2 linked regions of the Homo sapiens genome follow. The protein of the gene in region 1 purifies or fractionates together with the protein of each later gene. This does not show direct contact. Each region holds a gene or a part of one and is shown in the gene's direction. Other genes may lie near its edges. The genes, in order: ADCK5 and ZMPSTE24.

Evidence for each region.
Region 2: the proteins of ADCK5 (region 1) and ZMPSTE24 purify together in Homo sapiens (affinity purification with mass spectrometry; one large-scale study listed by BioGRID and IntAct). This does not show direct contact.

What each region holds. Positions count from the first base shown.
Region 1 is NC_000008.11:144,387,232-144,391,050, forward strand, and holds part of ADCK5 (uncharacterized aarF domain-containing protein kinase 5), read left to right. Parts: intron 1-2,031; exon of another isoform or gene 2,032-2,105; intron 2,106-3,439; coding exon 3,440-3,515; intron 3,516-3,624; coding exon 3,625-3,819. UniProt on the Homo sapiens protein: The function of this protein is not yet clear. It is not known if it has protein kinase activity and what type of substrate it would phosphorylate (Ser, Thr or Tyr).
Region 2 is NC_000001.11:40,289,178-40,292,218, forward strand, and holds part of ZMPSTE24 (CAAX prenyl protease 1 homolog), read left to right. Parts: intron 1-1,676; coding exon 1,677-1,820; intron 1,821-3,041. UniProt on the Homo sapiens protein: Transmembrane metalloprotease whose catalytic activity is critical for processing lamin A/LMNA on the inner nuclear membrane and clearing clogged translocons on the endoplasmic reticulum.

The sequences.
Region 1 (3,819 bases):
TCATATTCGTCATCTGTTTTGGCAGGAATCACACAGGAGTGACACTGCTTCTGTCCTGCCGGGGGCACATGATTTCGGTTTCCCCCATTTGATTCCCTTGTAATTAGCCGTATGGAGGCAGTTGAGATGATGTGTCTGTTCTCACTGCTCCTCCACCCAGCAGTTTGTTTGTTTCTTTATTTATTTATTGAGACAGTCTTGCTCTGTCACTCAGGCTGGAGTACAGTGGCAACATCTTGGCTCACTTCAGCCTCTGCCTCCTGGGTTCAAGCAATTCTCCCAGCCCCAGTCTCCCCAGTAGCTGGGATTACAGACACCTGCCACCACACCCAGCTAATTTTTTTTTAATTTTTAGTAGAGATGGGGTTTCTCCATGTTGGCCAAGCTGGTCTTGAATTCCTGACCTTAAGTGATCCATCTGTCTCAGCCTCCCAAAGTGCTGGGATTATAGGCATGAGCCACTGCGCCTGGCCTCCACCCAGCAGTTTAGCACTCATTGATACTTTTTTTTTTTTTTGAGACAGAGTTTCACTCTTGTTGCCCAGGCTGGAGTGCAATGGTGGGATCTCCGCTCACTGCAACCTCCACCTCCTGGATTCAAGCGATTCTCCTGCCTCAGCCTCCTTAGTAGCTGGGGATTACAGGCACACGCCACCACACCCAGCTAATTTTGTATTTTTTAGTAGAGGCGGGTTTCTCTGTGTTGGTCAGACTGGTCTTGAACTCCTGACCTCAGGGGATCCGCCCGCCTTGGCCTCCCAAAGTGCTGGGATTATAGGTGTGAGCCACCACACCCGGCCTCCAACATTTTGTGAAAAACTTCAAACATACAGCAATGTTGAAAATGCTCTGTGAGGCAATGTGAAATGCAATGTGAAAATGCTTTGGGAGGCCGAGGAGGGCGGATCACGAGGTCAGGAGTTCGAGACCAGCCTGACCAACGTGGAGAAACCCCATCTCTACTAAAGATAGAAAAATTAGCTGGGCATGTGGTGGGCACCTGTAGTCCCAGCTCCTCGGGAGGCTGAGGCGGGAGAATTGCTTGAACCTGGGAGGCGGAGGTTGCAGTGAGCCTAGACTGTGCCACTGCACTCCAGTCTGGGCGACAGAGCGAGATTCCATCTCAAAAAAAAAAAAAAAATTAAATTCCTTCTCCCCCAAGCACAAGTCTGTGGGACTTTTTCACATCTTTAAGTTTTGTTACAAAAGTGTTGTGTTTACTATAACAAATTTTAATAGTAGAAAAGTTAGAGCCGGGCACGGTGGCTCACGCCTGTAATCCCAGCACTTTGGGAGGCCAAGGTGGGCGGATCACGAGGTCGGGAGATCGAGACCATCCTGGCCAACACGGTGAAACCCCATCTCTACTAAAAATACAAAAAAATTAGCCGGGCGTGGTGTTGGGCGCCTGTAGTCCCAGCTACTCTGGAGGCTGAGGCAGGAGAACGGCGTGAACCTGGGAGGCGGAGCCTGCAGTGAGCCAAGATCGCCACCACACTCCAGCCTGGGCGACAGAGCGAGACTCCGTCTCCAAAAAAAAAAAAAAAGAAACCGAAACCCTGGCCTAACCCAAGCACGCACTCCAGATGCTCTACGGGGGCCAGAGTGGGGCCTGAATGGCCGGGGGGTCGCCCTGGGTTGATGGGGGACACAGAGTCCACCTGAGCGCCAGAGCTGCGCTTCAGGAATGACTGTGGGCCCTGTCCCCAGGCAGGTACGTGAGCTTCACAGAACGCAGGGACAGGCCTCTGGCCATGGCCAGCCTTGGAGAAGCCACTCTGACCTCAGCCCCTCCCTGTGCACCTGTGTGTGGTCTGCCCGCTGCCTGGCGCCTCATTCCAGGGCTGCCCAGCTGGTCCCCAGAGTTCTCCCAGGGCTCCCACCCTGATATCCTCCTAACTGGGGCCAGGCCTGGGGACACCCCTCTACCCCATCCTCTTGCCTAAATCTCCCCCAGGAGCCCAGTACCTGCTCAACAGATACCCAGGATGTCCCCCACTTCCTGCCTTAACTGGGCTCTCTTCCCTGCAGACCTTGCCTCCCCAGGCCTTGGAGACCCACCCTCCTGGTGTCCTCCTCTCTTCCTAGTGGACCTCAGGCTGCAGGTGACCTTGACCCTCCTGTGACCTCTGCTGCCTCAGCCCTGCCCCCTTGCTGCCATCCTTTACCTTCACAGACAGCCTTGGAACCCCATCTCTCCAGAGGATGCCACCGTCCATACTGTCCCCTACCCCATCTCACCTGGGCACCCTTGAGGGTGGCAGGGAGTGAGGGTGGCATGGACACAGGCTGCCCATTCTGCAGATCTTTTTTTGTTTTTTGAGACGGAGTCTCGCTCTGTCGCCAGGCTGGAGTGCAGTGGCGCAATTTTAGCTCACCGAAACCCGCCTCCTGACTTCAAGTGATTCTCCTGCCTCAGCCTCCTGAGTAGCTGGCACTACAGGCACGCACCACCATGCCCAGCTAATTTTTGTATTTTTAGTAGAGACTAGGTTTCACCATGTTGGTCAGGATGGCCTCAATCTCTTGACTTTGTGATCTGCCCGCCTCGGCCTCCCAAAGTGCTGGGATCATAGGTGTGAGCTACCAAGCCCAGCCTCTTTTTTTTTTTTTTGAAACCGAGTTTCGCTCTTGTTGCCCAGGCTGGAGTGCAATGGCGCGATCTTGGCTCACTGCAACCTCTGCCTCTCGGGTTCAAGCAATTCTCCTGCCTCAGTCTCCCGAGTAGCTGGGATTACAGGTGTGCACCACCACACCCGGCTAATTTTTTTGTATTTTAAGTAGAAATGGGGTTTCACCATGTTGGCCAGGCTGGTCTTGAACTCCTGACCTCTGGTGATCCACTCACCTCGGCCTCCCAAAGTGCTGGGATTACAGGCGTGAGCCACTGTGCCCAGCTCTGCAGATCTTTTTTGGACGGAGTCTCGCTCTGTTGCCCAGGCTGGGGTGCAGTGGTGCAATCTCAGCTTACTGCAGTCTCCACCTCCTAGGCTCAAACGATCCTCCTGCCTCAGCTTCCTGAGGAGCTGGGACCACAGGTGTGCACCACCGTGCCTGCCTAATTTTTTTGCATTTTTGGTAGAGACAGGGTTTCAACATGTTGCCCAGGCCAGTCTCGAACTCCTGAGCTCAAGTGATCCTCCCAGCACAGCCTCCCAATGTGATGGGATAATTGACATGAGCCACCACACCTGGCCCCGTTCTACTGATCTTGAGCTGAGACTGACCTGCAGGGCCACAGGACACCCCACGAGCTCAGCAGCACCCCTTGTGCTCACACAGGCCTACGCGGCTGTAGGCTGGACCCTGGCTTGGCCTCACCCTTGGGACATGAAGGGCTGGCCGGGGTGAGGCTAGACCATGAGGGCTCTGACAAGAGGACCAAGCACCGGGGCCCCGAGCCTGCCCCGCTGGAGACTGAGGCCACCTCTGCCCGCAGGTCTCTGAAGGTCGGCCTGCAGATCTCCCTGGACTACTGGTGGTGCACCAATGTTGTCCTTCGAGGGGTGGAAGAGGTTTGTCCTGGTGCCCTGGGCACACAGTGGTGGGCATGAGGTGGTGGGCTGGGTGGGACTGAGGAGGCAGCCACCTGTCCCCATGTGTTCTCCCCATGCCTGTGGTCAGAACAGCCCAGGCTACTTGGAGGTGATGTCTGCGTGTCACCAGCGGGCGGCTGATGCCCTGGTGGCAGGGGCCATCAGCAACGGGGGCCTCTACGTGAAGCTGGGCCAGGGGCTGTGCTCCTTCAACCACCTGCTTCCCCCCGAGTATACCCGGACCCTGCGCGTGCTAGAGGACAGGGCCCTCAAGCGGGGCTTC
Region 2 (3,041 bases), on another chromosome or scaffold:
TAACTTACTGGTGCCTTCATAACTTGCTTCATTTCCACTCTTATATCTACCACTTGTCCTTGATGATGAAGTGCTTCTGCGCATAGCAGTTTCCTGGCTAGGCAGATTAACAGATTAACATAGCACCCAGTTCAGAAGGGATAGTTCAGTTTGCAGGATCACAGTATCCCATGGCCAGGAATTCAGTCTGTAGTAGGGCCCAGTAGCAAACCAAAAGTTATTTTTCAAAAGGACAATGGTTACTTGACAAAAGTGGATGCATAGATTATAAGTGTAGGAGACTTCACTGAGTTTTCTGTTGGAGCTTGTCATATTGGATCCACTGAGTTATAAGGATGAGTGTCGAAGCTGCTTGTCCTGGGGCAGCTGGTGAGCCTTCTTATGCTCTAAGCCCCATTCTAAGCTGACAGCTTCTTGGGTCATCTCGTTTGGGTCAAATGGTTTGAAGCAACACACTTAAATAAGGTACATGTGGCCTCCAAGATCCTAATTTGCACAGAAAAAGAATGTTGTGTGTTCTCCAACCTTACTCCAAGAGGTTGTATTTTGGTATAGATTTTTTATTTTTTTCTCCTCTCATTTATTGATCAAGATGGATCTACTTTTCCCCCTGACCTTTCTAACTATCTGGTACAGCTCCAGTGGGCCTAGAGAGGATTCAAGGGAAGCCTGTTTCTTTGGAGCCTCCGCTTCAAAGTCAGGTGGGAGGCGTTGTATCTGATTACAGTGTTATAAAACAAGGCCAGAATCCATTCTAGCCCTTCACCCTTTTACAGAGAGAAAATATCCCATTGCTATTGACCACTTCAAACCCTCAATGATAGGAGCCTCAACTTAAGCTTGCCCTTATAGAAAATGATACAGTTTATACATTTGGGAACATTTTATTTTACTTTTGAAATAAAAGTGAAACTAAAAACTACTGGCGGGGCAGTATGGTTCATGCCTGTAATCCCAGCACTTTGGGAGGCCCAGGTGGGTGGATCATCTGAGGTCAGGAGATTGAGACCATCCTGGCTAACACAGTGAAACCCCGTCTCTTCTAAAAATACAAAAAATTAGCCGGGCATGGTGGGGGGCGCCTGTAGTCCCAGCTACTCGGGAGGCTGAGGCAGGGGAATGGCGTGAACATGGGAGGCGGAGCTTGCAGTGAGCCGAGATCGTGCCACTGAGCTCCACCCTGGGCGACAGAGTGAGATCTGTCTCAAAAAAAGCTACTTAAATAATTTGTTCTGTGATCACACTAATACCTTTCTTAAAATCACACTATGAATTTTTTTTTTTTTTTTTTTTTTTTTTTTGAGATGGAGTCTCACTCTGTTGCCCAGGCTGGAGTGCAGTGGCGCCATTTCAGCTCACTGCAAGCTCCGCCTCCCGGGTTCACGCCATTCTCCTGCCTCAGCCTCCCGAGTAGCTGGGACTACAGGCATCCGCCACCACGTCCGGCTAATTTTTTCTGCATTTTTAGTAGAGACGGGGTTTCACCATGTTAGCCAGGATGGTCTCAATCTCCTGACCTCGTGATCCACCCGCCTTGGCCTCCCAAAGTGCTGGGATTACAGGCGTGAGCCACCGCGCCCGGCCACACTGTGATTTCTTATACTTTATGGATGCTACTGATCCCATAGTGAAATCAGCTTGGTAATAACTTAGAAATTTCATGTCCTTCTTTCTAGATGAATTCTTTCCTGTGTTTTTTTTTATTTGCTGTATTAATTGGTCGAAAGGAGCTTTTTGCTGCATTTGGTTTTTATGATAGCCAACCCACTCTTATTGGACTATTGATCATCTTCCAGTTTATTTTTTCACCTTACAATGAGGTAATGTATGATCTTTAAAATTATCACACATATGCTCTTGCCTGCTTCAAATCTAGAGCTTTCAGGATAGTGAAAAAGGAAATAGAACAGTACAGTTTTAACAAATAGATGAAACAAAGTCTTTTAGTCCCCTGATTCACTGGTCAGTATGACAAAGTAGCAGAAAAATTCAAGCCCAAATAAATAAACGTTTGCATACTCTTAGGAAAGTATAAGTAGAAAACTAGACTTCAGTGGTGAACACCTAAAAGGACTCGGTAGATGGAGATTAACTATTGGAATGTTGTGTCCTAGGCCACATATTCACCAGTGCTTGGGTAAAAATCTTATGTGTATGAGGGGACAAAGCAAACACTAATTGGTACAGCTCAGTAAGGGAGGCTTAGTGACTGTTCCTCTGCTCCATGACCACCTGCCTCCATATAGCCTGAGGGATCCACCCAAACCCACAAAATCAAAATCGGGTATTTTGTGGTAAATGAAACTTAAGAACATTGCTCTGTGTTAGCTCATTAGGGGTATTCCGTGTGAGTGATAATACATAGGTTAATGTGAGACTATATAACAAACCTGACAATGGCATCATTTCATGATGTTTGGTAAGGCTTCCAAATTAAGCTAAGAAATAATATTGAAGATCTTGAGGTATCTCCATTCAGAAGAATTCTTTCTTGGGATAGATTGTAGAGTTAAGATGAGCTAAATGAATTATATTTTTCTATTATGTATGGTGGGGACACCAGGAAAGAAAAATGGAGGGGCATAGATCATATTCATATAGCATTGTCCACATAAACAAAAATAAATTTGGCAGAGAACTGAGATGTATTATCTTAAAACTCTTTTTTTTTTTTTTTTTTTAAGATGGAGTCTCGCTCTGTCTCCCAGGCTGGAGTGCAGGGGTGTCATCTTGGCTCACTGCAACCTCCGCCTCCCGGGTTCAAGCAATTCTCCTGCCTCAGCCTCCTGAATAGCTGGGACTACAGGCACCCATCACCACGCCCAGCTAATTTTTGTATTTTTACTAGAGACAGGGTTTCACCATGTTGGCCAGGTTGGTCTCGAACTCCTGACCTCAGGTGATCCACCTGCCTCAGCTTCCCAAAAGTGCTGGGATTACAGGTGTGAGGCACCACACCCGGCCTGAGCATGACTTTTGAGTCTCATGTCAGCACTCAAAAGTTTCAGATTTTGGAACATTTCAGATTTCAAGTTTTTGGT